7 linked regions of the Homo sapiens genome follow. The protein of the gene in region 2 interacts with the protein of the main gene of each other region in a biochemical or structural test. Each region holds a gene or a part of one and is shown on either strand. Other genes may lie near its edges. The genes, in order: ACOT6, DLG4, GJC1, EVI5, CACYBP, CRB2 and OR8G1.

Region 1 (3,491 bases), on a different chromosome or scaffold from region 2:
CGCGATCTCGGCTCACTGCAACCTCCACCTCCTGAGTTCAAGCAATTCTCCTGCCTCAGCCTCCCAAGTAGCTGGGATTACAGGTGCCCGCCACCTTGCCTGGCTAATTTTTTGTATTTTTAGTAGACACTAGGTTTCATCATTTCATCATGTTGGCCAGGCTGGTCTCAAACTCCTGACCTCAGGTGATCCACACGCCTTAGCCTCCCAAGTGCTGGGACTACAGGCGTGAGCCACCGTGCCCGGCCCAGGGAGAAGTCTTGAGTAAATGTTCAGCAATGTGTATGGGCAAGAATGAGGTAGAGCCAGGCGTGGTGGCTCAGGCCTGTAATCCCAGCACTTTGGGAGGCTGAGGTGGGTGGATCACCTGACATCAGGAGTTTGAGACTAGCCTGGCCAACATGGTGAAACCCTGTCTCTACTAAAAATACACAAATTAGCTGGGCATGGTGGCACGAGCCTGTAGTCCCAGATACTCGGAAGGCTGGGGCAGGAGAATCGCTTGAACCTGGGAGGCGGAGGTTGCAGTGAGCTGAGCTCGTACCATTGCACTTCAGCCTGGGCAACAAAAGCGAGACTCCGTCTCAAAAAAAAAAAGAATGAGGCAGAGTCCATTCCTTAAGGCAATCGAGTGGGCAGTTTCCCAAGACTCAGACGTGGTCAGTTAGGGCCAAAGGGGATATGAGACTCCAGAGCAATACCAAAGGTCAGTCCTCAGAAAGGGAACACGAGGCCAAAGCTGGGCCAGCAACTGAGTTGGGAAAGCACTTCTTACATTTCTCTTGCTTAAGGTGAAGACCGGTCCTACATATAAGATCAAGGTTAAGCCTACGTGGACCTAGCAGTGACGGAAGGCAGGTTGCAAAGGTTGAGAATCAGGGAGGACCTGACAAAAAAGCTGAGCTGGTTGCTTTGTCACTAAAAAGGTTGCTACGGGCTCTGGGAAACCCAACACAGGCTGGGTGTGGTTGCTCACACCTGTATTCCCAGCACTTTGGGAGGCTGAGTGAGGTAGGCATATCACCTGAGGCAGGAGTTCAAGACCAGCCTGGCCAACATGGCGAAACCTTGTCTCTACTAAAAATACAAAAATTAGCTGGGTGCCGTGGTGTGCACCTGTAATCCCAGATACTCGGGAGTCTGAGGTCGGAGAACAGCTTGGACCTGGGAGGCAGAGGTTACAGTGAGCCAAGATTATGCCACTGCACTCCAGCCTATGTGACAGAGTGATACAGGAAAAAAAAAAAAAAAGAGAAAAGAAAGAAAGAAAACCCAACACAAGTTGTATGAATAGGATTTTTATTAATGGTATCTGGTCTGTGGCTACAATGTTATATTTTGCTGTGCTTGACAGATTTTTTACCATTGAGATGTTTATGGAAGAAAGTTTGAATTTGCTGCCAGGCATCTACCTGTGCCTTTGAGTGAGCCTTTGGCTCACCTCCATAGAATATTGCCTCACCCAAAACAGCGTGCACAGAAGCTCTAGAAGGAGGAAAATAAGGTGGGTCAATACAGTGACCAGTTTCTGGGTAACAGATTATCTGGGGTCTTTCTTTCCCATGAGCTTGTAGCCTTTCAGAGGCTATCTGAGCATAGAATTCACTCTTCCAGCTTTGATCATCCATGCCAACAATAAACAAGAAGGGCACCTGCGCCTTTTCCAATGGAACAAGACTTTGGTGATTGTGTTCCTCCAGTGGATTGCTCCAAGTGTCCATAAAAGTGAGAAATCCTGACTTAGTGATTTTTACTTTTCCTAGATCATCGACAAGTTTAGGAATAATCATATCCTTGTAATGTAGAGGAGCTACTGTGTTGGCTACACAGGCATTGATAAGTACAGTGGCTGTGATGCCCTTCAAGAAAGAAGCCATTGAGAGACACAGGTCACCTCCTTTGGAAAATCCAAGAAGCGCAATACTAGGACCTTTCACCTGTTGAGGAAAAAGAGAAGGAAAACAAGCTTAGAATTCATAAATGGAGGACACAGACAGTGATTTTACATTCTCCAAGTAGCTTTCTCTTTTTTTTCTTTTTTGAGATGGAGTCTCGCTCTGTCACCCAGGCTGGAGTGCAGTGGTGCAATCTTGGCTCACTGTAACCTCCACCTCCCGGGTTCAAGCAATTCTCGTGCCTCAGCCTCCCGAGTAGCTGGGATTACAGGCGCCCACCACCACGCCCGGCTAATTTTTGTATTTTTAGTAGAGACAGGGTTTCACCATGTTGGCCAGCTGGTCTCAAACTTCTGACCTCAAGTGATCCGCCTGCCTTGGCCTCCCAAAGTGCTGGGATTATAGGCATGAGCCACCGTGCCCCGCCAGTAGCTTTCTTAACTATCATTTGCTTTCCTTCCGTATCCAACAATCTGCAAAGTTCAAATATGTCTTCTAATAAGCAAATCAACTGATTTCCTAGTAATGGGTCATCCCCTAATATTTATGAGGACTGGGTCAGGAGTATACACAGAGGCCCAGACACCCTATACCTAAATATTTCAAAATTATAAATCAAATGAACAAACTGTTAAATACAGTATATTATTTTCTCCTGCCTTGATAAATATACCACCATAACAATTCATAAGTTCAGGCTCAAATTTAAAATCTTGGAATCCACTGGAGTTCTGTACTGGAAAGTGACATAGGGGAGAGGTCAGCCCGTGGGCCCTGCACCACACTCCTTCTCTTCCATCACTGGCTCCTTCGTGGACCTTAAGGGGCCTCTCACACATATGTGTGGACACCCCAGCTTGCATGTTTAAGGCCTAGGTATATATACACCGACGAACCCAGAAAAGAGGCTTAGGGCCTGGAAGCAGGATCAGAGCTGTTTGGCAGAGAATTCTGGGGTGCCGGATCCCAAGAGCACTAGGGGTTGTGGGGGAGAGAACCCTGCAGAACATCTTATATCTTAACATTAGAATGTCTGGATCTCTTTAAACCTGGATGATAACAAAGAGTATATATAATTCCATTTTTAATTATACCAAAATTTGTTGTCGTTGTTGTTGTTGGGTTTTTTTTTGAGATGGGGTTTCATTCTTGTTGCCCAGTCTAGAGTGCAATGGTGTAATCTCGACTCACTGCAACCTCTGCCTCCTGAGTTCGAGCAATTCTCCTGCCTCAGCCTCCCGAGTAGCTGGGATTACAGGTGTGCACCACCATGCCCAGCTAATTTTTGTATCTTTAGTAGATGGGGTTTCACCATGTTGGCCAGGCTGGTCTCAAACTCCTGACCTCAGGTGATCTGCCCGCCTTGGCCTCCCAAAGTACTGGGATTACAGACGTGAGCCACCGCACCTGGCCAAAATGTTTTAATTAATTAATTATTTCTGTTATCAGATAAGGACTTTCTTTACAAAACCATAATACCATTATCATACCCAACAAAATTAATGATTACTTCATATAATCAAATACACCATTCTCATTCAAATGTCTCCAGTTGTCTCAAAAAATATCTCTTTATAGTCATTTTCTCTATATACA
Region 2 (4,525 bases):
TCCCCCAACCCTGCGCTCGGCCTAAGCCAGGCTCTCTCTGCAGTGCACTATGCTCGCCCCATCATCATCCTTGGGCCCACCAAGGACCGCGCCAACGATGATCTTCTCTCCGAGTTCCCCGACAAGTTTGGATCCTGTGTTCCCCGTGAGTGCTGGGGCCTTGGATGGAGGAGAAGGTGGAAGTGGGGGTGGGGCAGGGGAGGCCCATCCCTGGGGCCATAGGCAGAGCCTCCTGGGGGATCGGTGTGTAGGGAGATACAGGGTTTCTCCGAGAAGGGGTGCTTCTCAGCCACCCTCTCATTCCATAGTACCCATGCCCAGGCCAGAGACTTGGAGGCCCTGGAGGGTGCTAGGGGAAGCGGTTCTGGCCCTCTGCAGTCTTGGTCTCCCTGGCAGCTCCCTTTCACCAAAGGACCAGCTGGGCACTATGGGGATTTGATTGAAGTAGGCAGGATTTAAGCTAGAGGGATGGTGGTTAGATCTTTGGGGGGTGGGGTGACTTCCTGGCAGATACGACACGGCCCAAGCGGGAGTATGAGATAGATGGCCGGGATTACCACTTTGTGTCGTCCCGGGAGAAAATGGAGAAGGACATTCAGGCGCACAAGTTCATTGAGGCCGGCCAGTACAACAGCCACCTCTATGGGACCAGCGTCCAGTCCGTGCGAGAGGTGGCAGAGCAGGTAGGACCTGGCGGGCACCCGGTCCTCTTCCTTCTCCCCTCTCCCCACCCCACTGCCTCCCTCCAGCTTTCTCTAACTCTCTCTCTCTCTGTCTCTTTCCCTGCTGGGTCTCCACTCCGCTCCTCCACCTCCTTCTCCTCTTGGGCAACTCTGTCTGACTGCCTGCTCTCTGCCCCTGCTCTCTCTCCCACCTCCCTCACTTCCTGACCCCAAATTCCCCACCACCATCTGGCCTCTTTCTCTCCCCACTCCCTTCTCCTTGCCCCATTTCTCCTCTCTTCCCATGGCCTTGTCTTTGGTGGCTTGGCCTTCCCCACTGGGTCCCTCCCTTTTTCCTGACTCCCCGCTGGCCCTCTCCCCTGCCTCACCCTTTTCTGGGGCCCGGCTCCCCTCTCCCACTCCTCTGCTAACTCCTTTCCTTTCCCCGCTGCTCCTCACCCTGCCCTCCCTCCCTCCCTCCACGGTTCCTTTCTCCATCTGCCTCACTCCCTCCCATCTGTCTCCTTGTTCCTTCCATCTGTCTGTCCTCTGTCCGTCCTCCCCTCCCTCCTCCCTCTATCCTACTTCCTTTCTCCTTTTTCTTGGCTTTCCTTCCCGCCTGTGTCACCTCTGCCTTGCACACCCCGCCCCACTCGCTGCTGCCCCGGCTCTGCCACCATCTCTTGGGTCCCTGCCTGCCTGGTGCTCCTCCCTTCCTCCATTCTGTCCTGTCCCTGCCCTCTCCCGTGCTCTCCATCTTCCCTTTCCTTTCCCTCTGTCTTTTACTCTGTCCATACCCGCTTCCTGCCTGACTCTCTGCCCCCGTGTTTCTTGACATCCATGTCACTCCCCTTCGGCCAACTTCCCATTCCCCACCTCTCCCCGTCCGTGTCCCTCCGGCACTGCTCTCTGTCCTTTCTCGCCACCCGCTGGCCCCCCTCCGCCCACCCTGCCTGCCCCCAGGGGAAGCACTGCATCCTCGATGTCTCGGCCAATGCCGTGCGGCGGCTGCAGGCGGCCCACCTGCACCCCATCGCCATCTTCATCCGCCCCCGCTCCCTGGAGAATGTGCTGTGAGTATGGTCCTGGGGGCCTCCCCTTTGCTCCCCCAACACCTGTGGCCCTGGGCCTCACAAGGCGTCTGCGTTCAACTCTCCCTTCAGAACCCTGGACAGCGGTTTCAGCAGCCCCTGAGGGGGATCCCTGGAACCCAGAGGATGTGGGGGAATCGGGTCTTTCCCCTCCTCTCCTGCCTTGGCTAGACAGGACTACATTTCCCAGCAGCCCCTGGGGCATACCAGCTGGGGCGAGTCAGGGCCTCTAGGGCTGTTGGGAATTGGAGTCCGAATCCCATCTCTGGGGCTGAAGGCTGGAAGGATGAAGCTCCGTAGATGTCCCTGGAGTAGCCACACCTGGCTGGGGCGGTTGCGGGTGGCAGGGGGGTGGGGGGTGGTTCTCATCTGTGGCCCCAGAGGATATTGGGAATTGTATTTTTTTTTTTGCTATGTGCTCCAAATAGAAGAATACTTAACATTCCTGGATAGAGGAGATAAAAGGCAGGGTCAGGTGGGTCCAGTCTCAGGCCTGCTCTCCCTCCCTCTTCACAGAGAGATTAACAAGCGGATCACAGAGGAGCAAGCCCGCAAAGCCTTCGACAGAGCCACCAAGCTGGAGCAGGAGTTCACAGAGTGCTTCTCAGGTGAGGCCACAGCAAGGCTGTTGCCAGCATGTAGGGTGCCCTTGCTCGGATTAGAAAGAGCTCCCCCGCCACCCCCAGTGGATGGCTTAGAAAGAGGTGCCCCTGTGGGCGCGGCATGGTGGCTCACGCCTGTAATCCCAGCACTGGCGGGCACCTGTAATCCCAGCTACTCGGTAGGCCGAGGCAGGAGAATCGCTTGAACCTGGGAGGCAGAGGTTGCAGTGAGCCGAGATCGCACCACTGCACTCCAGCCTGGCGCTAAGAGCAAAACTCAATCTCAAAAAAAAAAAAAAAAAAAAAAAAGAGGTGCCCCTGTGGGCGGGTGCAGCCCCAGGACTTATGGCTTGGAGAGTTGGAAAGAGGTGCCCCTTCCTCTGGGCTGGTGCAACCCCCTTGGCCAGGTGTCCTCTGGCCCTTCCTTGGCCTCACTCCCTGCTCCACCCCACTCCCAGCCATCGTGGAGGGTGACAGCTTTGAGGAGATCTACCACAAGGTGAAGCGTGTCATCGAGGACCTCTCAGGCCCCTACATCTGGGTTCCAGCCCGAGAGAGACTCTGATTCCTGCCCTGGCTTGGCCTGGACTCGCCCTGCCTCCATCACCTGGGCCCTTGGTCTGGACTGAATTGCCCAAGCCCTTGGCTCCCCCCGGCCTCCCTCCCACCCCTTCTTATTTATTTCCTTTCTAACTGGATCCAGCCTGTTGGAGGGGGGACACTCCTCTGCATGTATCCCCGCACCCCAGAACTGGGCTCCTGAACGCCAGGAACCTGGGGTCTGGGGGGGAGCTGGGCTCCTTGTTCCGAGCCCTTGCTCCTTAGGATCCCCGCCCCCACCTGCCCCCAATGCACACACAGACCCACCGGGGGCCACCTGCCCTCCCCCATCCTCTCCCACACACATTCCAGAAGTCAGGGCCCCCTCGAGGAGCACCCGCTGCAGGGATGCAGGGCCACAGGCCTCCGCTCTCTCCTAAGGCAGGGTCTGGGGTCACCCCTGCCCTCATCGTAATTCCCCATGTTCCTTGATTTCTCATTTATTTTTTCCACTTTTTTTCTTCTCAAAGGTGGTTTTTTGGGGGGAGAAGCAGGGGACTCCGCAGCGGGCCCCTGCCTTCCACATGCCCCCACCATTTTTCTTTGCCGGTTTGCATGAGTGGAAGGTCTAAATGTGGCTTTTTTTTTTTTTTTTCCTGGGAATTTTTTTGGGGAAAAGGGAGGGATGGGTCTAGGGAGTGGGAAATGCGGGAGGGAGGGTGGGGGGCAGGGGTCGGGGGTCGGGTGTCCGGGAGCCAGGGAAGACTGGAAATGCTGCCGCCTTCTGCAATTTATTTATTTTTTTCTTTTGAGAGAGTGAAAGGAAGAGACAGATACTTGAAACTTGGTGTGTGGCCTGGTTATTTGGGACCTGGGTGTGGAGGGAGATGGGCGCAGCAGAGTCAGATCCTTCTTCACTCCAAGCCAGAGAGGTTAGTGGCCTGGAAAATGGGCCAGGGAGGTAACTGGCAAATCAAGGAACCCGAGTTGGTGAAGACTGAGCCTGGGAAGGTCTGGAGCTCTGTCCAAAGTCATGACAGGCCAGAAAGGGGAGGCTGGAACTTGTCTGGGGCCCTGCAGACTTAGTCCAGCTCTGATCCCTGCCGGGCTGTCTCAGTCCTGTTGGGAAGCACAACAGTCCTTAAAGGAAAATAGAGAGGAAACTTCGTTCATTCATGTTCATGGAGTTGTGGACAGAGCTAGGATCTGGAAATGATTTTTTTTGTTTTTTTGTTTTTTTTTTTGAGACAGAGTCTTGCTCTGTCGCACAGGCTGGAGTGCAGTGGCTCGATCTCGGCTCACTGTGATCTCTGCCACCCTGGTTCAAGTGATTCTCCTGCCTCAGCCCCCTGAGTAGCTGGGATTACAGATTACTGCCACCATGCCTGGCTAATTTTGTATTTTTAGTAGAGATGGGGTTTCACCATGTTGGTCAGGCTGGTCTTGAACTCCTGACCTTGTTATCCACCCGCCTCAGCCTCCCAAAGTGCTGGGATTACAGGCGTGAGCCACCGCGCCTGGCCTGGAAATGATCTTTACAGAGTTCTGCTGATAAGAACTGCTGTGTGAATATACGCTAGGTTTCTTTATGCGCCCCCCCCACCCTTTTTTTTTTTTTTTTGAGACAGAG
Region 3 (4,555 bases), about 38 Mb from region 2:
TGGTTTCAGCTACTCAGGAGGATGAGGCAGGAGGATTTTTTGAGCCCAGAAGTTGAAGGCTACAGTGAGTTGTGATCACACCATGCACTCCACCCTGGTCAACAGAGTGGGACAGTCTCTATTTGAAAAAAGAGGCCGGGTGCGGTGGCTCACACCTGTAATCCCAGCACTTTGGTAGGCCGAGGCAGGCAGGTCACAAGGTCAGGAGTTCGAGACCATCCTGGCCAACATGGTGAAACCCTATCTCTACTAAAATACAAAAAATTAGCCGGGCATGGTGGCGCGCGCCTGTAATCCCAACTACTCTGGAGGCTGAGGCAGGGGAATCGCTTGAACCCGGGAGGTGGAGGTTGCAGTGAGCTGAGATTGTGCCGCTGCACTCCAGCCTGGCAACAGAGCAAGACTCCATCTCAAAAAACGAAAAGAGGGCCAGGCACAGTGACTCACGCCTTGTAATCCCATCACTTTGGGAGGCCGAGGTGGGCAGGTCATGAGATCAGGAGATCGAGACCATCCTGGCTAACACCGTGAAACCCCGTCTCTACTAAAAATACAAAAAATTAGCCAGGTGTGGTGGCACACGCCAGTAGTCCCAGCTACTTAGGAGGCTGCGGCAGGAGAATCGCTTGAACCTGGGAGGCAGAGGTTGCAGTGAGCTAAGATTGTGCCACTGCACTCCAGGCTAGGCGACAGAACAAGACTCCATCTCAAAAAAAAAAAAAGGAAAGGAAAGAAAGGCCAGGCATGGTGCCTCACACCAGTAATCACAGCTCTTCTGGAGGTCATGGCAGGAGGATTGCTTGAGTCCAGGAGTTCAAGACCAACCTGGGCAATATGATGAGACCCTGTCTCTACAAAAATAAGAAATTTTAAAAAAAAGGAGGAAAGAGGCTAGGTACGGTGGCTCACGCCTGTAATCTCAGCACTTTGGGAGGCCGAGGCGGGGGGATCATGAGGTCAAGAGATCAAGACCATCCTGGCCAACATGGTGAAACCCCGTCTCTACTAAAAATACAAAAATTAGCTGGGCCTGGTGGCACACACCTGTAGTCCCAGCTACTTGCGAGACTGAGACAGGAGAATCACTTGAACCCGGGAGGCGGAGTTTGCAGTGAGCTGAGATCACACCACTGCACTGAAGCCTGGTGACAGAGCAACACTCCGTCTTAAAAAAAAAAAAAAAAAAAAAACAGGAAAGAAATGCATAGGGTTTCAGAGTAAGTTTTGATGTTTTTCCTCTATATAAATCGGATAAACTTCACACACCCCTATTCTTATCCTCTAATCTCTAAACTATATTCAACTCCCAATAGTTATAGAGATTATTTTCATTCACATGTTTGTAGTATTTATCAGTTTTGGCTTAATTTATTATTACTTAACTAATGAGTTATAACATTCCTTTTGGGAACGTTCAAATTAGAGCTGGACTCTATTTTAGGAATTCCCCTTGAGTCATTCTTGGACTTGGAATTCCTAATTGCCCATCCAGAGTAGATGTTTATTTGGATTCAAAATTTTCCTTCCTGAAATTATCCATTCTGTGGCTTCGGTTACCATATATATTTTGAATACTGCCACATTTTTATCTGTAGCCAGACCTCTTTTTTTATCCTGGCTGCCTGTTCAACATCTCCACAGAGATACTCAGAGGAGGTAATTTGAATTGTGTTGTCCAAAGTGAGCTCTTCATCTTGGCCCCACACCTAGACTTTCTTCAGTGTACTCTATTTTATTAAGTGGCTCTATCACACAATTTACTGAGGCTGGACTCTTTTTTTTTTTTTTTTTTTTTGAGATGGAGTTTCGCTCTTGTTGCTCAGGCGGGAGTGCAATGGCATGATCTTGGTTCACTGCAACCTCTGCCTCCCGGTTTCAGGCGATTCTCCTGCCTCAGCCTCCCGAGTAGCTGAGATTACAGGCGCCTGCCACCACGCCCAGCTAATTTTTTATATTTTTAGTAGAGATAGGGTTTCACCATGTTGGCCAGGTTGGTCTCGAACTCCTGACCTCAGGTGATCCACCCGCCTCGGCCTCCCAAAGTGCTGGGATTATAGGCATGAGCCAACACACCCTAATTTTAGAATATTTTAGATTGTTTTTATTCCGTCAAAAAGAAACCTGATACCCGTTAGCAGTTACTCCCTCCTTATTCCCCCCATAATGGTTGTACAATATTCCATTATGGAGGTTATACCATAAATTATATATGTTTCTTTTTTTTTTTTTTTTTTTTTTTTTTGAGACGGAGTCTCGATCTGTCTCCCAGGCTGGAGTGCAGTGGCACGATCTTGGCTCACTGCAAGCTCCGCCTCCCAGGTTCACACCATTCTCCTGCCTCAGCCTCCCAAGTAGCTGGGACTACAGGCGCCCGCCACCATGCCCGGCTAATTTTTTGTATTTTTAGCAGAGACAGGATTTCACAGTGTTAGCCAGGATGGTCTTGATCTCCTGACCTTGTGATCCACCTGCCTCGGCCTCCCAAAGTGCTAGGATTACAGGTGTTAGCCACCGCACCCAACCTAATTATATGTGTTTCTTATAATAAATGCCCTGTATTTGTTTAGGGTAAATTACTAAATGTGGAATTATTGATCAAAGGATATAAGCACTTTAAAGTTCTTGATAACTGTTGCCAAGATGCCTTCCAGAAAAGTTGTACCAGATGACACCATTGGTGTATGATGGTATGGGTGTTGGTGTTTTTTTGTTGTTTTTTTTTTTTTTTTTTTTTTTTTTTTGAGACGGAGTTTCCCTCTTGTTGCCCAGGCTGGAGTGCAATGGCGCGATCTTGGCTCACTGCAGCCTCCACCTCCCAAGTTCAAGTGATTCTCCTGCATCAGCCTCCCAAGTAGCTGAGATTACAGGCGTGTGCCACCACGCCCGCTAATTTTGTATTTTTAGTAGAGACAGGATTTCGCCAATATTGGTCAGGCTGGTCTCGAACTCCTGACCTCAGGTGATCCGCCTGCCTCAGCCTCCCAAAGTGCTGGGATTACAGGCATGAGCCACCGCACCCAGCCGATGGTATGGGTTGGGTTTTTTTAAAGAAATTTTGTATCATAAACGTAGTCATATTGGAAAATCATACATTTATTTTTGTCTTAGACATGTTCGTTTTTCTAGACTGAGCATTGTTCAGAACAGTTGGTTTGACCTAATCTTAGGCTGTTTTGGACAAATGTTCCAATATTGTCCTGTTTGCATGAAGACAGTTCCACTTAGGATATGTTGTGAATGAATATATTATCCCTATCCCAGGTTCCTCATACTTCTCCAGCTGGTTCCTGAAGGTTCTTACATTCAAATAGAATGGCTTTTTGCCAGCGAAAATTGGCACTTCAACCCACAATGGTGCTTTTTGTTTCCTCATTGGTTGATACAGCCAAGATCTCAAACTACTCACTCTCCATGAGATTTTATAATTTGATTCGCCACAAATTATATTTTAGGTTTTTCAAATATTCATAGCCAAGAGCTCTTTTGAAAACAAGTTGTTTTCATGTTTGTAGCACATAGATTACTATGTGCTACTTAGCTGCTGTAATGCTTTTGCTTAGAAATTGTCACGAGCTAGTTATTAAACATCTATTATCACTCATGTGGAATTAACTTCCACTTAAAACGTTCCAGTTAAACAACACTTCATTGTAAACCCTTTAATTGATTCCTGGTCTCTGCACATAAAGCAGTCGCGTTCAGGGGTATGAGTCACTAGCACGATTCTTAGTGGATTGCTCAGCTCATGAGCTGGGATGCCTAGATTGTTAATACCTACTTTGGAATTACAGTGAGTCAATATTGAAATTTTTAAATTTAGTCCAACCGCAAATTTTCTGAAATGATCGTTTGGGAAGTGCCTTTTTAAAATTTTGACATCTTGTTATATTGTTTAATTTTACTGCTATTACTTTACTTTTCTCCTATCCCTAGACTTTTGAGTTCCACATAATTTGTCAGTTTGGTGAATTTTACTCTGAGATAGTTTTCATCAAATGTTAAATGGAAGAGATTTTAGAAATCATCTAACTTGATATTCTTCATTTATTTCAGAAATTAGGATATGGAAAGAACTTATTCCTGAAGTGCATGGATTATATTCTGGGATTAGAATCTCTTGCCTTCTAGTCCATTGCTTGCTTAGTTTCACAAAATTCAAGGTTAAGAATCACTTTTCGCCCAGGAGCCGTGGCTCACGCCTGTAATCCCAGCACTTTGGGAGGCTGAGGCAGACGGATAACCTGAGGTCAGGAGTTTGAGACCAGCCTGGCCAACAAAGTGAAACCCTGTTTCTACTAAAAATGTAAAAAAATTAGCCACTGTGGAAAACAAGATAATGTTCCTCAACCAATTAAAAATTACCATATGATAGAGCAATTCCACTTCTGGATATTAAAACAAAAGAACTGAATGATTAGCCAGGTGTGGTGGCACACGCCTGTAATCCTGGCTACTTGGGAGGCTGAGGCAGGAGAATCACTTGAACCTGGGAGGCAGAGGTTGCATTGAGCCGAGATCATGCCACTGCACTACAGCCTGGGTGACGAGGCAAGAT
Region 4 (4,555 bases), on a different chromosome or scaffold from region 2:
AAGGGGGACTAAAAGAAAGGAGCAAGTGAATGCTGAACAGTTAGAATCCCAGATTTCTTCCAAGCTGCTGAGTGGCCCCACCCTCAATGTGGCAGGTGACAGATTTCTCTTCTCAAGAGGGTAAACCATACAAGGTGGAAGACATAGGCATCCTAACAGAGACAGATTGTGTGAGCCCAATATACTAAATGTTCTTTGGCTCCTTACCCAACCCTCTTTTCCTGAGTTCCCAGATACTGACAACCAGACCTCAACTCTCCAAGCAGAAAACTGGAAGATACTCTCTGGAAAATATGACTGGGACAAAAGGAAAGATAAATACAGTGGAGACAGCCTCAAACAATCCACCCAGATCAATTATTTCAATCTTGGCTACACACTGGAATTATCTTGGCAGCTTTAAAAAATACTGGTGCTAATCTTCGGAGATAGAAATCAGAATAGTGGTCACCTCTAGGCTGGGAGTGAGACAACAGAAGAAAGGGATATGAAGGAATTTTCTAGAATTTTTTGCCATGCTCTACATCTTATATCGGTTACATGGTAAAAATCAAACTATACACTTAAATTCTGTGCATTTTACTGTATGTAGCCACACCTAATTTTTTTAACTATCCCTACCTGGGACCTAGTCTCAGAGATTCTGACGTATTAGCAGCAGGGATTTTTTTTTTTAATTCTCCATGTGATTATAATGTGCAGCCGAAGCTGAGAATCACTGCTTTAGACTCTAGAATATAGGGTAAAACAACATGTCCTTAAGTCCTACTTACAAGTTCAGGACTTCCCATCAGCTTTCAGTAGCCCACTGTTAATCATGAACAGACAACCAAGGATTACCAGTCTTCCGAGGAGGGCCTCTACTAATAAGACTATACCAAATAGGAAAAAAAGTAACTTGGAAGAAACTATGCAAGGAAAAGAAGGTCTAGGCCAGGTGCAGTGCCTCACAGCTGTAGTCCTAGCACTTTGGGAGGCCAAGGTGGACGGATCACCTGAGGTAAGGAGTTCAAGACCAGCCTGGCCAACATGGTGAAAACCCGGCTCTACTAAAAATACAAAAATTAGCTGGGCATGATGGCAGATGCCTGTAATACCAGCTACTTGGAGGGCCGAGACGGGGAATCGCTTGTACCCGGAAGATGGTGGCTGCAGTGAGCCGAGATCACGCCACTGCACTCTAGCCTGGGTGGCTGAGACTCCGTCTCAAAAAAAAAAAAAGAAAGGCTTAAGAAAACGATTTTTAACATTCTCAGAGAGATAAGAACAGATATGGCACCCATGAAACAAGAAGAGATGGAGAAATAAGTGACTGAGTAGAGGAGGCTGAACCTACTGGCCTGCAAAAGGGAATACAATCAAGAAACAAGCTGAGGAGTCTCTCTGAGCCTATTCTGGCTCAGAAGAAGGCTGCCAGATAAAGTGATATAAAAATTTTTTTAATTTAAAAAATAAAAAGAAGCAAGCTGATTTGGCTAACTCACAGAATCACAGAAAGGCTCAGAATCTAGGAGCCTAGGAGTTCCCAGGTATAGGGTCAGTGGAGAGGCATGGGGCTAAAGAGAAAGTAAATGGTTTAAAGTTTATGTAAGGTACAGTTGGACTCTAGTCTAGGTTCCCTCCTCTGCCACCATTCCTATCTCATAAATTTATTTTCTAGAAACTCTGACCTGGTGATACGATTTGGCTCTGTGTCCCCACCCAAATCTCACCTTAAATTGTTAATAATCCCCACATGTCAAGGGCAGGACCAGGTGGAGATAAATGAATCAAAGGGGCAATTTCCCCCACCCTGTTATTGTGATAGTGAGTGAGTTCTCACGAGATCTGATGGTTTTACAGGGGGCTTCACCCTTTGCTGGGCATTCATTCGCTCTCCTGTTCCCCTGTGAAGAGGTGCTTTCCACCATGGTTGTAAGTTTCCTGATGCCTCCCCAGCCATATGGCACTGTAAGTCAATTACACCTCTTTTCTTTATAAATTACCCCGTCTTGGGTATTCTTCATAGCAGCATGAGAACAGACTAATACACCTGTGAGACTCCAGACTCAAGAAAAGTAAAGTAAGGCTCAAGGCTGAAAGCCAAGGGGTTAAACAGAAGTGTGTTTGATGAAAAGCAGCCCCTGCCCACAGCCCACTTTCTTTGCCCACCTCTCAAAGTTGGAGAGCTTATATTACCACATATCAAAGCTTATTATAAAGTTACATTAATACAGTGATATTAGTGCAAGGATGACAAATATACAAATAGAACAAAGTATCCAGAAACAGACCCACACTAATTTCATAAATTAGCTGACCATACTGTTATCTAATTTATGAAAAAAAGTGCCACACAGTGCAGATGGACAAGGATGGTATTTGCAATAAATGGTGCTGGATCAAACAGACGTCTATATAGAAAAAAGTGAATCTTGGCCCGGTGCAGTGGGTCATGCCTAAATCCCAGCACTTTGGGAGGTCAAAGCAGGTGGAGATCATGTTACTGCACTCCAGCCTGGGTGATACAGTGAGACCTTGTCTCAAAGAAAAAAAAAAGTAAATTTTTTTTTTTTTTTTTGAGACCGAGTCTCACTCTGTCGCCCAGGCTAGAGTGCAATGGCACAATCTCGGCTCACTGCAACCTCTGCCTCCTAGGTTCAAGCGATTCTCCTGCCTCAGCCTCCTGAGTAGCTGGGATTACAGGCACCCGCCACCACGCCCAGCTAATTTTTGTATTTTTAGTAGAGACAGGGTTTCGCCATGTTGGCTAGGCTGGTCTCAAACTCCTGACCTCATGATCCGCTCGCCTCGGCCTCCCAAAGTGCTGGGATTTCAGGCATGAGCCACCACGCCCGGCCTAAAAAGTGAATCTTGACCCCTGCGATTCATCAAGAATTTACTCTAAATTATATACCTTAAATGCAAAAAGTAGGGGATGGGTACAGTGGCTCACACCTGTAATCCCAGCACTTTGGGAAGCCGAAGAGGGCAGATTGCTTGAGCCCAAGAGTTTGAGACCAGCCTGGGTAATATGTTGAAACCCTGACTCTACAAAACATACAAAAATTAGCCAGGCATGGTGGCATATGCCTGTAGTCGTAGTCACAGCTACTCAGGAGGCTGAGGTGGGAGGAATGCTTGAGCACAGGAGGCGGAGGTTGCAGTGTTCTGAGACTGCACCACTGCACTTCAGACCCTGTCTGAAAAAAAAAAAAATTTTTTTTGCAAAAAGTAAAATAAAATTGCTATAAGACAACACAGAAAAATATGTTCATATTCTCAGGTTAGGCATTGATTTCTTAAATAGGACACAAAAAGCAGTAACCATAAAGGACAAGATTGATAAAGTATACTTCATTAAAATTAAGAATCTCAGGCTGGGTGCAGTGGTTCATGCCTGTAATCACAACACTTTGGGAGGCTGAGGCTGGTGTAGGTGTATGACTTGAGCCCAGGAGTTCGAGACCAGCCTATGCAACATGGCAAAACCCCATTTCCACTAAAGATACAAAAATTAGCTGGGCATGGTGGTGCTCATCTGTAGTTCCAGCTACTTGGGGGTTAAGGCAGGAGGAATACCTGAGTCTTGGGAGATCAAGATTGCAGTGAGCCGTGATCGTGCCACTGCACTCCAACCTGGGCAACAGAGTGAGATTCTGTCTCAAAAAAAAAAAAAAAAAAAAAAAAGGCCAGGCACGGTGGCTCACACCTGTAATCCCAGCACTTTAGGAGGCCGAGGTGGATGGATCATGAGGTCAAGAAATCAAGACCACCCTGGCCAACATGGTGAAGCCCTGTCTCTACTAAAAATACAAAAATTAGCCGGGCATGGTGGCACACACCTATAGTCCCAGCTACTCAGTAGGCTGAGGCAGGAGAATTGCTTGAACCCGGGAGGCGAGGGTGCAGTGAGCCGAGATCGCGCCACTGCACTCTAGCCTGGCAACAGAGTGAGACTCCATCTTACAAAACAAACAAACAAAAAACACACACACACACAAATTAAGAATCTCCAGGCATGAAAAAAAACACCATTAAAAGACTGAAAAGGCAAAATACAGACTGAAAAAAATAAAAATGCAATACATATATATCCTAGAAAGGACTCATATCCAGAATAAAGCATTATAAATGAGAGAAAAATAAGCATATCAACGAAAACTGGGCAAAAAGACTTAACAGGCACTTCACAAGAGGAAATATAAATGGTCAACAAAAGATACTCAACCTCAGTACCAGGAAAATGCAAAATGAAACCACACTGATATATTACTGTACCTCTACTAGACTAGCAAAAAAAATTTCAACTGACAAGCACCAGCAAGGATGTGGGGTAACCGGAACATTCCCTGCTAATTGGTAGAACCACTTTGGGAAAATGTTCAACAATTTCTAATACTAGAGTTTTATCACCCACGTACCTATAAAACCAACAATGCCACTCCTACGTACATACTCCAATCTAGTAATGTCCTATTTCTTGATCTTTGGTGGTTCACTTAGTAAAAATTCATTACCTGCGATGTTTTTTGTTTTTGTTTTTTTTGAAAGACGGTCTCACTCTGCCGCTCAG
Region 5 (4,555 bases), on a different chromosome or scaffold from region 2:
AACATAGATTTGTGTTGAGGGAGAAACTTGTCAATCCGGAGGATGGACTGACTGAATGGGAAGAAACTATTAATAAATGAAGTTCTCTGGACCCCACTAGGGCATTTTTTCATCAACACTGTTTCTTTTTAATTTTCGAGGGTACATAGTAGGTGTATATATTTATGGGGTACATGAGATGTTTGATATAGGCATGCAATGTGAAAAACGTCATGGAGGATGGGGCATGTTTCTATTCTATAGGACTAAGTGAGCAATAGTCAGGGATATGTATGTATATATTCTTGATAAACAGAAGATGCTTTTTTGTGAAGTTTTTTATTTTCTACAAATGTGATGGTATTTTGTGAAGTATTTATATATATGTCTTTTATGTTGACAGAGTTCTTCTAGGTCAGAGACGTGCTGGTAGTTTGATAATACATACTGAAATGGCATTTAACAGATACCAGTAGGTTTGTCAGATTTGGATGAAGAATTGGAGTCTTTTACATTCTACTTTGCCCTGGAAAGGAATTAAGAGAGCTAGGATTCCATTTGTTTGACTACTTACAGAAGTAGAAATGGTTATGGAATTAGTATTGATACTTAGCCATCCAGCTTAGTGGAGAACTACCAATATTTAGATGTCGGACAAAATTGTTTCCATAAAAGCTGTAAATGAACTAATCTTAAAGAATGTATTTAGTGATCATATTTTTATTCTGAGGGATAAAAAGAGCATAGGTTTTGTATTCAGAAACCTGGATTTGAATCTGAATTCTACCACTTGTTAGATGCCTAGCTTTGGGTAGAGTACTTAACTGCTTTGAGGCTCCATTTCTCAACCTAGAAAATTTCTTATATTTCAAATTTTTTCATGTTTATATGACTGGATTTTCATAATTTTACTTTCCTGACTTATGAGCCATGTGCATTTGCTGTTCTAAAGATAGTTTCAGAGGCTTACTTACGTCCCATCTTTTGTTGTCGTTGCCAGGATGGGATCAGTCAGATAAGTTTGTGAAAATCTACATTACCTTAACTGGAGTTCATCAAGTTCCCACTGAGAATGTGCAGGTGCATTTCACAGAGAGGTGAGTTCTCATTATAATGGGAAAGACAGTGAATTAACAGTCAACATTGCCTTATCTTGAGACTCTCTTCTTTGCAGTTTTTAAAATTCTTAAATTTAGAATTAATTATCCTTTACAACTACTTTGAAGAGGTGAGCGTTAACTGGCCAAATGCACACCCTGAAATAAAGCCAGCAGCTTTTTTCCCACAAGAACTATGGAGTAAGGGTACCTTTCATAGAACTAGAAAGATGATGTATTCACCATTGTGTTGCAGGTCATTTGATCTTTTGGTAAAGAATCTAAATGGGAAGAGTTACTCCATGATTGTGAACAATCTCTTGAAACCCATCTCTGTGGAAGGCAGTTCAAAAAAAGTGAGTGTGCTTTTTTTGATTGTAATATTGTGAAACCTTACCAAATTGAACCTGGCTGATTTAGAACTGAGATGAACTGGAATGAATTTGTCCTCTGTAACAGGGACCACCGCCTGTTTTGTGAATGTTTTATTGGGACATAGCCAGGCTTATTTGTTCATGTGTTGTTTGTGGATGCTTTTGTGCTACAATGGCAGAGTTAAGTGGCTACAGCAGACCATATGGCCCTAAATGAAACCTAAAATATTTACTATGCGGCCCTCGACAGAGAACATTTGCCAACTCCTTTTGTAGAATAGGCTATTGTAAGAATATTCCATTAAAATCAGGGAGGAAGTAAACGTTTGAAGGTAGTTAAGAGTGAGACTTGAGTTTTATGCCAGGTTTACAGCTTATTGTTTGTGACCTTTGGCAGCTTAATCACTCTGTGCCTCAGTTTCTGCATTTATGCGATAGTAATAATTTATTTCACAAAGTTGAAATGATACACTGAAGTGCAATACCATTATGTAAAGTGCTTAAATTAATGCTAGTGTTAGCATTGTGCATAATACTCGTATACATAAAAGGAGGTCTTAAGCACTTAGCCTCCTTGGAGTTAGAAGCAGCTATAAAAATAAGGAAACTGTCTTTTAAAAACTACTCTTTGTAATTTTTACTAAATCAGATAGTCCCTGTTTTCTGCCTAATGTGAATAAATGAAGTTTAATGCGTTAGGTATATAGACATGACATTCTGCCATCTGTTTTTATAATACATAATTACTTAACAGCTTACAGGTGATACTCAAATATAGTTGGATTCGCTGTCTTACTGCACCCTTCTGCATCCGCTAGTCCCATAGGTAGAGTACCAAAAGATCCCTAGTATTGATCATTGTTTAAAAGACCTGTACATTGCCCTTCTTTCTCACTTTCAAATGCCTCACCTTGCCCCATACTGCCTTATACGACTTGGTTTCTTGCCTATCCCCGACCCCTCTTATTATATTACTGTCTTTTTCAGTCACTAAAATCCAGCCACTCCTCCTGCTCCTCAAACACACCAAGATGATCCCATCTTGGAGCCATTCTGCATGCTCTGCCAACTGCCTTCTCCTGACCTTAGGCTTCGGCTCAGATTTGCCTCAGAGAGGCCTTCCTAATGAAGTTCCTGCCCCCACCCCCCATTAACACCCGCTTTGTCTTGATAGCACTTTCCAGGATATCAGGGTATTCAAGTTTTACTTATTTATGGTCTTTTCACACCATGAATGTTCAGATTTTGGCCTATTCATACAAGTATTACTGGCACCCAAAATAAGTCTATACATACTAGGGACTTGATCAATTGAATAGATAATTGTTTTATAAATATTCATGCTTATCTCCATGTCTTCTAAGCTGTATTTGTTTTCCTGCTTTTCTTCCAGGTCAAGACTGATACAGTTCTTATATTGTGTAGAAAGAAAGTGGAAAACACAAGGTGGGATTACCTGACCCAGGTTGAAAAGGAGTGCAAAGAAAAAGAGTGAGTCTACTTCCATTTTTTTAAAGAATTTTAGTGTATTGTTTGAGATCATGGATTTTTAATAGTTTGTCTTTATGGATAATGTATTTCTGCTTTCAACTGTCAAACTACCTGAAGAGGGCACGTCCAGCAAGTTGCTTTTTAAGGTCTTTGTAGTTAAGGGTTGGCTCTTTAGTGTGGTTCTTAACCCTAGGCGCAGTTGTGCTTCTATACAAATAACTGTGCCCATTCCCAGATACTCTGTTTCGGTAGTTTGAGAGGGGCTTAGGTACCCCTGTATGTTTTAAATTTCTCAGATGCTTCTGATGCGTAGTTTTCATTGTCACTGGTTTATAGTGAAAAAGATAAAATATTTTTATCCTTCTTAATAATGACCTTTTAAAAATGTGTATTCAATGATACTTGCGTTCTAGGTCAGTTCATCTTCTAAAGGTACTGACTAAATTAATTCAAGACCCAGGCCCAGATCTGTGTATCTCAGGCTTAAGAGGAGAGTTTTTCTAATTAAAAAATACATGAGCTTCAGGGTACATCCATGTGTAATGTTTATGATTTTCCCTCAAGTGTTTTTTTTCAAATTATGAGGAAACATGCTTTTAAAAAATGAAAACAAGTTAGAAAATCAAATTCTTATTTTACCTGTCAAAAATCACAGGAGGCCAGGTGGGGTGGCTCACGCCTGTAATCCTAGCACTTTGGGAGGCTGAGGCGGGCGGATCACCTGAGGTCAGGAGTTTGAGACCAGCCTGGCCAACATGGTGAAACTCTGTCTCTACTAAAAATACAAAAATTAGCCGGGCATGGTGGCATGTGCCTGTAATCCCAGCTACTCGGGAGGCTGAGGCAGACAGAATTGTTTGAACCTGGGAGGCGGAGGTTGCAGTGAACCGAGATGCGCCACTGCACTCCAGCCTGGGCAACAGAGCAGGACTGTCTCAAAAAAAAAAAAAAAAAAAAAATCATGGGAAATCCCTGTGCCTAAAAATAGCCCCTAACTATTTTGATGACCTCTTTCGTGCACCAAGTGTGTGCATGCTTGATACGTGTGTGTTGTTTTCATTAAGATGAATTTGTGCGTGCCGTTTTGATTGTAAATATCTTTGGGTACTCTGTCTTCCTTCTTATCCCTCTACTTCCTGCCAGTGTTAACAACCTGAATGATAGTATCTTCCGGTGCTTTCGTTTCCCCATTGTTGTATATGTTTTCTTTTTAAAGGAAGCCCTCCTATGACACTGAAACAGATCCTAGTGAGGGATTGATGAATGTTCTAAAGAAAATTTATGAAGATGGAGACGATGATATGAAGCGAACCATTAATAAAGCCTGGGTGGAATCAAGAGAGAAGCAAGCCAAAGGAGACACGGAATTTTGAGACTTTAAAGTCGTTTTGGGAACTGTGATGTGATGTGGAAATACTGATGTTTCCAGTAAGGGAATATTGGTGAGCTGCATATATAAATTTGACAGATAGCTATTTACATAGCCTTCTAAGTAAAGGCAATGAATTCTCCATTTCCTACTGGAGGATTTATTTAAATAAAATATGCTTATTAAACACTCCTGCAAAGATGGTTTTATTAGTACCCTGGTCATTTTGTTCAAGGAAGGGTTAT
Region 6 (4,555 bases), on a different chromosome or scaffold from region 2:
CCAGACCCCTGGCAGAAGAGGTGGAGGGGGCAGTGGGAGGAGCCTCACCCTCTGGGGCCTCCTTGGATGGATGGGGCCTGCAGGAGGGAGACCCCTCCCCAGGTGGAGCTGAAATAATCCAGATAGACCTTGAAGCCTGTCCCAGCGAACACTAACTTGCTGTGTGAAGTGGACAGGGCTGGGCAGGCTCAGCAAGCCTTCACTTTCTTTCCTGGGCCTCCTTTTGCTGTCTGGTGCAATGGGCATGACGGATACTGCCTCAAAGGGGGACTGCAGGGACAAGACAGTGGAGGGAAGCTCACGGGGCTCAGGGAACCTCTGCTCACTAATCCTGCCCAGAAGCCAGACATCCTTGGTGCTGTTTCTCTGCTATATAGGCTCTCCTAAAACCGTTCCCAGTTCTGGGTGCAGATGTGTGCAGCTTACTGGGACCTGGCTTGCAGACCCCTGGCCCTCTGTCCATACTGTGCATGCAGAGACCCACGTTGCTTTTGGGGTCTGGGGTGGGCCTGAGAGGGTGGGGAGGAGATTGTCCTTGTAACCTCTGCCCACCCTGCCCAGCCAGTTTCTTCTTTCTACAGGGACGGTGCCTTCAGAGCCCCCCAGTGCCTGTGCCTCAGACCCGTGCGCTCCAGGGACCGAGTGCCAGGCTACCGAGAGTGGTGGCTATACCTGTGGGCCCATGGAGCCCCGGGGCTGTGCCACCCAGCCATGCCACCACGGCGCTCTGTGTGTGCCCCAGGGTCCAGATCCCACCGGCTTCCGCTGCTACTGCGTGCCGGGTTTCCAGGGCCCACGCTGCGAGCTGGACATCGATGAGTGTGCATCCCGGCCGTGCCACCATGGGGCCACCTGCCGCAACCTGGCCGATCGCTACGAGTGCCATTGCCCCCTTGGCTATGCAGGTAACAGCCTGGGCCGCCCTGGGAGGAGGTCTGTAATGCAGATCGCATCAGCTGCTCAGAGTGTAAGCATCATGGCTTCAGCTTTGCCTTTCGTGTAGGGACGCCCCCAGGCATCCGGGCAGCTCTAGGGTATATCCACTTGGTCTGACTACAGAACTGATGCCTGGCAGCTCTGGGTGAGAGTATGTATGTGCGGGTGCTGGCGTGGTGTGTGGCGCATCTCAGGCACTCGGTAAATGTGATTTCAGTCCAGCCTAGAGTTCAGTTTGGCTGCGGGGGTGGAATACCCCTCATTCATCTCTGGCAGTGTGAACCTGCCTGGCGTGACTTTAGTGAGGATGCCCAGATAGTCTTTCTAGCACTTCAGGCCTGTGCCAAGCTGTCATGTAGACACTGTCTACACGACAGTCACCATCAGCTCATTTGAACACTCCTGATGTGGTCTGGAGTGCAATGTGGACCCCTGGCCTCTGGGTCTCCCCCAGAGTTCTAGCATAGACATACAAGGTCTCGTTCAAACTGTAGTGTTGACATACCCCAGGGATCGCTGCTGTCTGGAGTGGGATAATATATACGTAAGTGCTCAGAAAAGTGACTGGCACTAAGGGTACCTTCTCCAGAGTGTGGCCCGTCCCAGGCCCACCCATGGTCTGAGCCGAGAACATCCTGGAGCGGCTTCCCAGAGAGGCCTGAAGTCGGGAAGGAGGGCGCAGCTGGGGACAGAAGGGGCGCAGTCTGGGAGCGAAGCTGAGTCCAGGGCAGAGTCTGAGTCTGCAGTGTAGATGCTCTGGATCCTACTTCAATCCTGAATTCAGACAACTGTACTCTGAGGGCAGAGGGCAGTTTGAAGTCACTTCAGAGCAAGAGGTACAGATTGGGGGGCTGGGTTCCAGGGCAGGGGGCCTACAGCGAAGAGATGGCAGCTGATGAAGAGAGATTTGGGAAGCTGGTTCCATGCATCTTTCTCATCGTTCCAGTGTCTCAGCGTCTGGGTGTATTAGTGTACATGCCAGTGCAGGTCACATTCGTCCATGTGTCTCCTAGTTCCAAGTTCTGTTTTGCATCTGTAAAGATCTGCCAGTACCTGGGGGTGTCTGCAGTCTGAGTGCATGTGTGGGCAGTGGGTTGTTCGGGCAGTGGGTTGTGTGGGCAGTGGGTTGTGCGGGCAGTGGGTTGTGCGGGCAGTGGGTTGTGCATCCGGATGTGTAGCACTCACACACTTCGGGTGACTCTTCCTGGGTAAGCTGTGGATGTGAGTGGGGGCAGCATCTGCCGTGACTCATTCTCTCCTCTTTCCATTCCAAGCCGGGTGGGGGAGTTTGGGATTTCCAGACAAGGCCTGGCTCCCCCTGGCACAGAGGGTGGGAGTGGGGATGGGGAGGGAGGAGGGAAGGGTCATGGGAAGGTGGGGCCATGTTTTGTGCTCAATGAACTGAGAAGGGGGAGGGTTCCAGCTGGAGTCAGCTGGGCCTCTGGCCCCCGCTTGACCAAACCCACTTAGGGGGCAGGGCCTGCTGGAGTCTACAGTGACACGTGAGTCCAGGATGATCTCAGGCAGCGTATCTGAAACCCTGGGACTCCCCATCTCCCTTCCTCTTCACCATCACCCTGGGAGAGCCACTCAGCTGTCGTGATTCGCCCAGGACTGCGAGGGTTCTGGGGACTTGGTACTTTCAGTTCTAAAACCAGGACAGTGCAGGGACACTGGGAGGAGTGATTACCCTACTCAAGCATCTCCTGCCTCTCTGGGATCTGAAAGCCACCAGAGTGGACCTTCTAAAAAGTAGGTAGGGCCAGGTGTGGTGGCTCACGCCTGTAATCCCAGCACTTCGGGAGGCTGAGGTGGGTGGATCACTTGAGGCCAGGAGTTGGAGACCAACCTGGCCAACATGGTGAAACGCCTTTTCTACAAAAAAATACAAAAATTAGCCGGGTGAGGTGGCATGCACCTGTAATCCCAGCTACTCTGCAATCTGAGGCACAAGAATCACTTGAACCCAGTGGGCAGAGATTGCAGTGGGCTAAGATTGCAGCACTGCACTCCAGCCTGGGCGACAGAGTGAGACTCTGTCTCAAAAAAATAAAAAACAAAAACAAACCCAAAACAACTAACTAAAATGTAGGTGGGACCAAGTCACTTACCTGTCTGAAACTTTCAGGATGGACCCAGAGGTTACCTGGTCCCCAAGGCACTGACACCTCCCACCCGACTCACCTCCGCCACCCTCTCCCTTGCTTCCAACCCTCCAATAACCCCGCCTAGGGCATCATGGCCCTGCCCCTAGTGGAACTTGCCTCTTGCTGCAGTCTCTTTGGAATCCAACTGCTGCCCACAGTCCCCTATCTGAATCCTTCAAAAGCCTCTTCTTCTAGGAAGCCTTCCCTGAACAGAGCAGACCCCGGCTATTGCTTTCCCAAGACCCAACCCCTTTCCTTGTTGAACTTGGCAACATCACCTAGCTCATTTAGGTAATTACTGGCTGAATCACCCCCCACCATGTCCTGGCCTAGACTGCTGTGAGCCCCATGAAGGCAGGGCTGTCTGTCTCGTTTCTCTCCCTGCGGTTGCTGGCATGACCCGTCCCCCACCCCCCAACCACCACCACCACCATCCGGCTCTGAATGAATGAATCCACGAGTCTCTAACTCTGGAGCAGGCCTGGCGCGACCTCTTCCGCCCTGCTCTGGGTGTCCATCCTGCACCCTGTGTGTCCCCTGCCCTGTCCAGGCGTGACCTGCGAGATGGAGGTGGACGAGTGCGCCTCAGCGCCCTGCCTGCACGGGGGCTCGTGCCTGGACGGCGTGGGCTCCTTCCGCTGTGTGTGCGCGCCAGGCTACGGGGGCACCCGTTGCCAGCTGGACCTCGACGAGTGCCAGAGCCAGCCGTGCGCACATGGGGGCACGTGCCACGACCTGGTCAACGGGTGAGCGAGCGGCGGGGCAGGCGGCAGGGGCGCCGGGTGCCCGAGGGCGGGGAGGCCAGGCGCGGGGCAGAAGGGGCAGGCGCGCGCTCAGCTCCGCCGGTGCGCCCTCCCCAGGTTCCGGTGCGACTGCGCGGGCACCGGCTACGAGGGCACGCACTGCGAGCGGGAGGTGCTGGAGTGCGCATCGGCGCCCTGCGAGCACAACGCGTCCTGCCTCGAGGGCCTCGGGAGCTTCCGCTGCCTCTGTTGGCCAGGTGTGTGCGTGCAGGTGCGCGGCCTGGCGGGGGGAGGGGTAGGTGTGCGCCTGTGCGGCCTGGGGCGGTGGGGCAGGTGTGTGGCTGCACGCGAGTGCCCGCTGGGTCCTCGGGACCAGAGTGTGTGTGTGATTGCAACCTGTCGGAGCCTCAGTTTCCTGATCTACAAAATAGGGCTGATCGTAGCGCCTGCTCCTGGGGTTGCTGCGGGGAGCTCGAAGGTGCGACGCCTGGGAAGCCCTTGGGGAGGGCCTGACAGCTGCAAAGGGCTCAGTAATTAATGCTAGTAATAGTAGTAAGACTAGGCCGGGCGCGGTGGCTCAAGCCTGTAATCCCAGCACTTTGGGAGGCTGAGGCGGGCGGATCACGAGGTCAGGAGTTCAAGACCAGCCTGGCCAACATTGTGAAACCCCATCTCTACTAAAAATACAAAAATTAGCCAAGCATGGTGGCATGTACCTGTAGTCCTAGC
Region 7 (4,555 bases), on a different chromosome or scaffold from region 2:
TACATAATTCAGATTGTATTCATTGATTACAATGAAATTACAATAGATGTATTTTTGAAAGAAATAGCTAAAAAAAAAAAAAGGCCCCACATCTGTAATGATAACAATTCACTTCTGTATAATCCTTGCAACGATGAAAAAACTGAAACAAAAATTATAAAATATTTTAAACTTAATAATATCATAAATTTTGTATACCAAACCTTGCGAGATCCAGCTAAAGTGGGGTTCAGATGGAAATTTATAACTTATATGTACACATTAGAAAAGAATAAAAGTTGAATTGTTGATTCAAGCTTCCACTTCAAGAGGTTAGGGAAAAAAATAGGAAATCATACTAAAGAAATGTGTAAAGAATATAATAAAGTTTTTAGAAACAACTAAAGTAGAAATAAATATATCACTCATAAAATTAACATACCCAAAAGTTAATTTACTTTATTTGAGTAATACAATTGGAAAATTTCTAGAATGGTTGATCGAGACAAAAATGGAACCATAAATTACTGATTTTAGGAATCAGAAAAAAGAAATCGCTGCATAGTCTACAATTATGTTTAGATGTTAAAGAAACAATTACCAAAAAAGAAGAAGAATACAATATATTTGATCATTTGCAAAGTGGGCAAGCATTTTCAAATTTAAATTTAGGAAAGTTGAGAAGAAAGATAAGATCTGAATAGTAATATCTATTAAATAAATTCAATCCATTACTAAAAATTCTCACAGAGAGAAAACCGTAAGTCTAGATTGCTATACTGGTGAATACTTCCAAACATTTAAGGTATTTTGGGGCAATCTATTCCAAAAAATATGTTTTTGAGATTTGTGTTATTGCATGTATTTGTGATATGTTCCTTTTAAAATATAGAGTAATATTTTATGTGTGTGTGCATATAAGACAGAGAGAGGAAGAGAGAGAGGGAGAGAGAATTGTAGTATAGGTGTATACTACATCTCATTTATGTATTCATCTGTTGATAATGTTTTGGTTTTTTCCAGTTTGGGGCTCTTATGAATAAGGCTGTCATGAACATTTTTGTATAAATCTTCATGTAGACAAACGTTTACATTTTTCTTGGGTAAGTACTGAGGAGCAGAATTATTATATTGCACAGTGTCTGTTTAAATTTATACTAAATTGCCAACATCTTTTCCAAAGTGGTTGGACAATTTTACACCTCCCCCAAATTTTATAAGTCCAGTTACTTCACACCAACATTTGGTATTGTTGGAGTTGTTTCATTTAACCCATTCCAATACAGGTGTGCAGAGCTGTATCACTATGGTTTTAACTTTCATTTCTTTGATGACTGACATTGAGCATATTTTCATATACTTAAGGACTATTCATACATATTTTTGTAAGGAATTTGTTCGGATATTTTCCTGTTTTTAAAATTTTCTTGCCTTCATATTAATTGTAAATATTATTTCTATATTTTGAATAAAAGCCCTTTTTCAGATATATGTATTTCCATAGAATTGCCTTCTCATTTTCTTAATACTATCTTTTGAAGAACAGCTTTTAATTTTGATGACATACAAATTAAGTATTTGTATGGTTTTTTGTTTGTTTGCTTTGGGTTTTGTTTATGTGTGTCTGTGTGTGTGTGTGTATCCTTTCTAAGAAAGCTTAAATTTTAAAATCTCAAAGAATTTCTCTAGCATTTTCTTCCAGATATTTTATAGTTTAGCCTTTCTGTTTATATCTGTATTTTAGTTTTTTTATAGAAGTAAGATATACATTTTTAGGTTTTCCATATATAATATTCTTTGTAATTTAACTCTAAGCCATTTGGAATTTTACTTTGGCACATGCAATGAGTAATTTGCCTGATCATAGTTTAACAGAATAAATAACTATATTTTAAATTCCATATATTCTAAATGTATGCCTGTTTTTTGTACTTCTTCCTAATTCACAAAAGTTAAAAGAAGAGAAAAAAAATGGAGGTATTTTTATCTGTTTCTGTAATTTGAATGAGTAAAATGGCTTATTTTCCAATTGACAGGATATGAATAGGTAACAAATACAATGATGATCTTGCTTACTTTCTGATTAATAAGTCTGCCAATTTTATTAATAGGTAGGTAATATTTTTATTTATCTTTCACAGATTTGGAGTCAAGACACAAACGGGTTATTTAACTTATCCACGGGTATCATTAGTAAATGATAGAGTCAGAAAGCAAACATAGGCACTTTGAGTTTAAGGCCTGTCCATTTAACCACTACTAACACAGCTTCCCTCAAATAATGGCAGAAGTGCTTGGTCCAGAGACCATAAACCAGATAACTGTGGGCCAGTCCAGCTCGTGTTAAATTTATACAATTATTGTTATAGAGATTGTTTCATAGTAATAATATTTTAAAATATGAAAATTTTATGTATAAATCGAGATTTCTTGATAATTACATTAAAAATGGAAAAATCTGACAGTAATATCTCTGTTCACCCCTCCCAGAAATTAGTTTCAGGTAATTAAAGTTTACCATCCTTAGGCAAGGTTTGTTCTCTCCAAGTTGTCATGAGTTCAACTCATTTATATTGGCTTATATTAATATTTAAGTTAGTGAGTCTAAACTTAGAAATATTGGCTTAAAATCACTGAAATATTTAAAAGAAGAAAGGGATACTTAGAAAGTGTTCAATGATAAAAATGGCTAAAATATTTTACATGAAACACATTTATTATATTTGAAAATAAGATTAAATAAATATTATTTGAGGTAAACTTTACTTACTCAAAGGGGATACCTAAAGCATGAATATCTGGGAACCTTTTCTCAATGAAGAATAATAAAGTCCCTCCCACAACCATGGGGTTTTTTTGTTTTGTTTTTTCTCTTCCTGCAGAAACTGACTGGAGGAGATGTCAGGAGAAAATAATTCCTCAGTGACTGAGTTCATTCTGGCTGGGCTCTCAGAACAGCCAGAGCTCCAGCTGCCCCTCTTCCTCCTGTTCTTAGGAATCTATGTGGTCACAGTGGTGGGCAACCTGGGCATGACCACACTGATTTGGCTCAGTTCTCACCTGCACACCCCTATGTACTATTTCCTCAGCAGTCTGTCCTTCATTGACTTCTGCCATTCCACTGTCATTACCCCTAAGATGCTGGTGAACTTTGTGACAGAGAAGAACATCATCTCCTACCCTGAATGCATGACTCAGCTCTACTTCTTCCTCGTTTTTGCTATTGCAGAGTGTCACATGTTGGCTGCAATGGCGTATGACCGTTACATGGCCATCTGTAGCCCCTTGCTGTACAGTGTCATCATATCCAATAAGGCTTGCTTTTCTCTGATTTTAGGGGTGTATATAATAGGCCTGGTTTGTGCATCAGTTCATACAGGCTGTATGTTTAGGGTTCAATTCTGCAAATTTGATTTGATTAACCATTATTTCTGTGATCTTCTTCCCCTCCTAAAGCTCTCTTGCTCTAGTATCTATGTCAACAAACTACTTATTCTATGTGTTGGTGCATTTAACATCCTTGTCCCCAGCCTGACCATCCTTTGCTCTTACATCTTTATTATTGCCAGCATCCTCCACATTCGCTCCACTGAGGGCAGGTCCAAAGCCTTCAGCACTTGTAGCTCCCACATGTTGGCGGTTGTAATCTTTTTTGGATCTGCAGCATTCATGTACTTGCAGCCATCTTCAATCAGCTCCATGGACCAGGGGAAAGTATCCTCTGTGTTTTATACTATTATTGTGCCCATGTTGAACCCTCTGATTTATAGCCTGAGGAATAAAGATGTCCATGTTTCCCTGAAGAAAATGCTACAGAGAAGAACATTATTGTAAACAGTAATAATAAGAAGATGATATATTAATCCTAAGTAGTGGACTGTTACATTGTATGAATGGATGTCTTTCACTTTAATGCATCTGTCAATAATTTTTACCATTTGGTGAGATTATATTACCATTATTTTTTCATTTCATGACCCTTTGATGTCATTTCCCATGTGGGGTTTTAACTCATATGTATCAATGAGACACAAATTAATATAAATACTAAAATCGACATGAGTACATAGACTCATTAATGCCAGCCCCATGTTCTTACCTCTTTTCTTTTACACAATTGATAAAATTCAGCTCAGTTCTCAACCATAATGAAAATACCATCTTCCAAAAGTGATACCAATCTCCCTTATTCTGTCTTTTCAATAACAACATAAATTATTGCAATATGATAGCTGTAATTTTAGCCTGCAGCAATCTCTTTTCTGCCTTATTCATCTATTTACCTCATTTGTCTGCTGTATTTCTTCTTTAGCAACATAATCAAAATTTCAGAATATAAGTTACATATCCGTGTATGTGTTATAATTGTGCAATCCAATATATCATCTGCTTTGCATTTTCCTATTCTAGTTTGTACTTGCCTTCAACCTACACTGGACTTCAGTCTTCATGAAGATTCCCCCGTACATGTGGTTTATTGCCACGTCTCCAGCGTCTATCATAGTTCTTGCCACCTTAGGTCCTTGAAAGCTTTTTTATTATTTCCTCATTTAAGCTAAGTATAGGAAAGCCATAT

What was found.
Region 1: the proteins of DLG4 (region 2) and ACOT6 interact in a test that uses a peptide from one of them, tested with the Homo sapiens proteins (one large-scale study listed by IntAct).
Region 3: the proteins of DLG4 (region 2) and GJC1 interact in a test that uses a peptide from one of them, tested with the Homo sapiens proteins (one large-scale study listed by IntAct).
Region 4: the proteins of DLG4 (region 2) and EVI5 interact in a test that uses a peptide from one of them, tested with the Homo sapiens proteins (one large-scale study listed by IntAct).
Region 5: the proteins of DLG4 (region 2) and CACYBP interact in a test that uses a peptide from one of them, tested with the Homo sapiens proteins (one large-scale study listed by IntAct).
Region 6: the proteins of DLG4 (region 2) and CRB2 interact in a test that uses a peptide from one of them, tested with the Homo sapiens proteins (one large-scale study listed by IntAct).
Region 7: the proteins of DLG4 (region 2) and OR8G1 interact in a test that uses a peptide from one of them, tested with the Homo sapiens proteins (one large-scale study listed by IntAct).

The regions. Positions count from the first base shown.
Region 1 is NC_000014.9:73,617,680-73,621,170, reverse strand, and holds the end of ACOT6 (acyl-coenzyme A thioesterase 6), read right to left. Parts: intron 1,938-3,491; coding exon 1,332-1,937; 3' UTR 1,283-1,331; downstream 1-1,282. UniProt on the Homo sapiens protein: Catalyzes the hydrolysis of acyl-CoAs into free fatty acids and coenzyme A (CoASH), regulating their respective intracellular levels.
Region 2 is NC_000017.11:7,189,103-7,193,627, reverse strand, and holds part of DLG4 (disks large homolog 4), read left to right. Parts: intron 1-43; coding exon 44-145; intron 146-510; coding exon 511-683; intron 684-1,625; coding exon 1,626-1,735; intron 1,736-2,269; coding exon 2,270-2,361; intron 2,362-2,813; coding exon 2,814-2,920; 3' UTR 2,921-4,525. UniProt on the Homo sapiens protein: Postsynaptic scaffolding protein that plays a critical role in synaptogenesis and synaptic plasticity by providing a platform for the postsynaptic clustering of crucial synaptic proteins.
Region 3 is NC_000017.11:44,819,884-44,824,438, reverse strand, and holds part of GJC1 (gap junction gamma-1 protein), read left to right. Parts: intron 1-4,555. UniProt on the Homo sapiens protein: One gap junction consists of a cluster of closely packed pairs of transmembrane channels, the connexons, through which materials of low MW diffuse from one cell to a neighboring cell.
Region 4 is NC_000001.11:92,778,310-92,782,864, forward strand, and holds part of EVI5 (ecotropic viral integration site 5 protein homolog), read right to left. Parts: intron 1-4,555. UniProt on the Homo sapiens protein: Functions as a regulator of cell cycle progression by stabilizing the FBXO5 protein and promoting cyclin-A accumulation during interphase. May play a role in cytokinesis.
Region 5 is NC_000001.11:175,005,766-175,010,320, forward strand, and holds part of CACYBP (calcyclin-binding protein), read left to right. Parts: intron 1-979; coding exon 980-1,076; intron 1,077-1,332; coding exon 1,333-1,432; intron 1,433-2,843; coding exon 2,844-2,941; intron 2,942-4,157; coding exon 4,158-4,314; 3' UTR 4,315-4,555. UniProt on the Homo sapiens protein: May be involved in calcium-dependent ubiquitination and subsequent proteasomal degradation of target proteins. Probably serves as a molecular bridge in ubiquitin E3 complexes. Participates in the ubiquitin-mediated degradation of beta-catenin (CTNNB1).
Region 6 is NC_000009.12:123,362,284-123,366,838, forward strand, and holds part of CRB2 (protein crumbs homolog 2 precursor), read left to right. Parts: intron 1-581; coding exon 582-905; intron 906-3,633; coding exon 3,634-3,829; intron 3,830-3,943; coding exon 3,944-4,083; intron 4,084-4,555. UniProt on the Homo sapiens protein: Apical polarity protein that plays a central role during the epithelial-to-mesenchymal transition (EMT) at gastrulation, when newly specified mesodermal cells move inside the embryo.
Region 7 is NC_000011.10:124,246,799-124,251,353, forward strand, and holds part of OR8G1 (olfactory receptor 8G1), read left to right. Parts: intron 1-1,002; 5' UTR 1,003-1,082; intron 1,083-2,861; 5' UTR 2,862-2,877; coding exon 2,878-3,813; 3' UTR 3,814-4,555. UniProt on the Homo sapiens protein: Odorant receptor.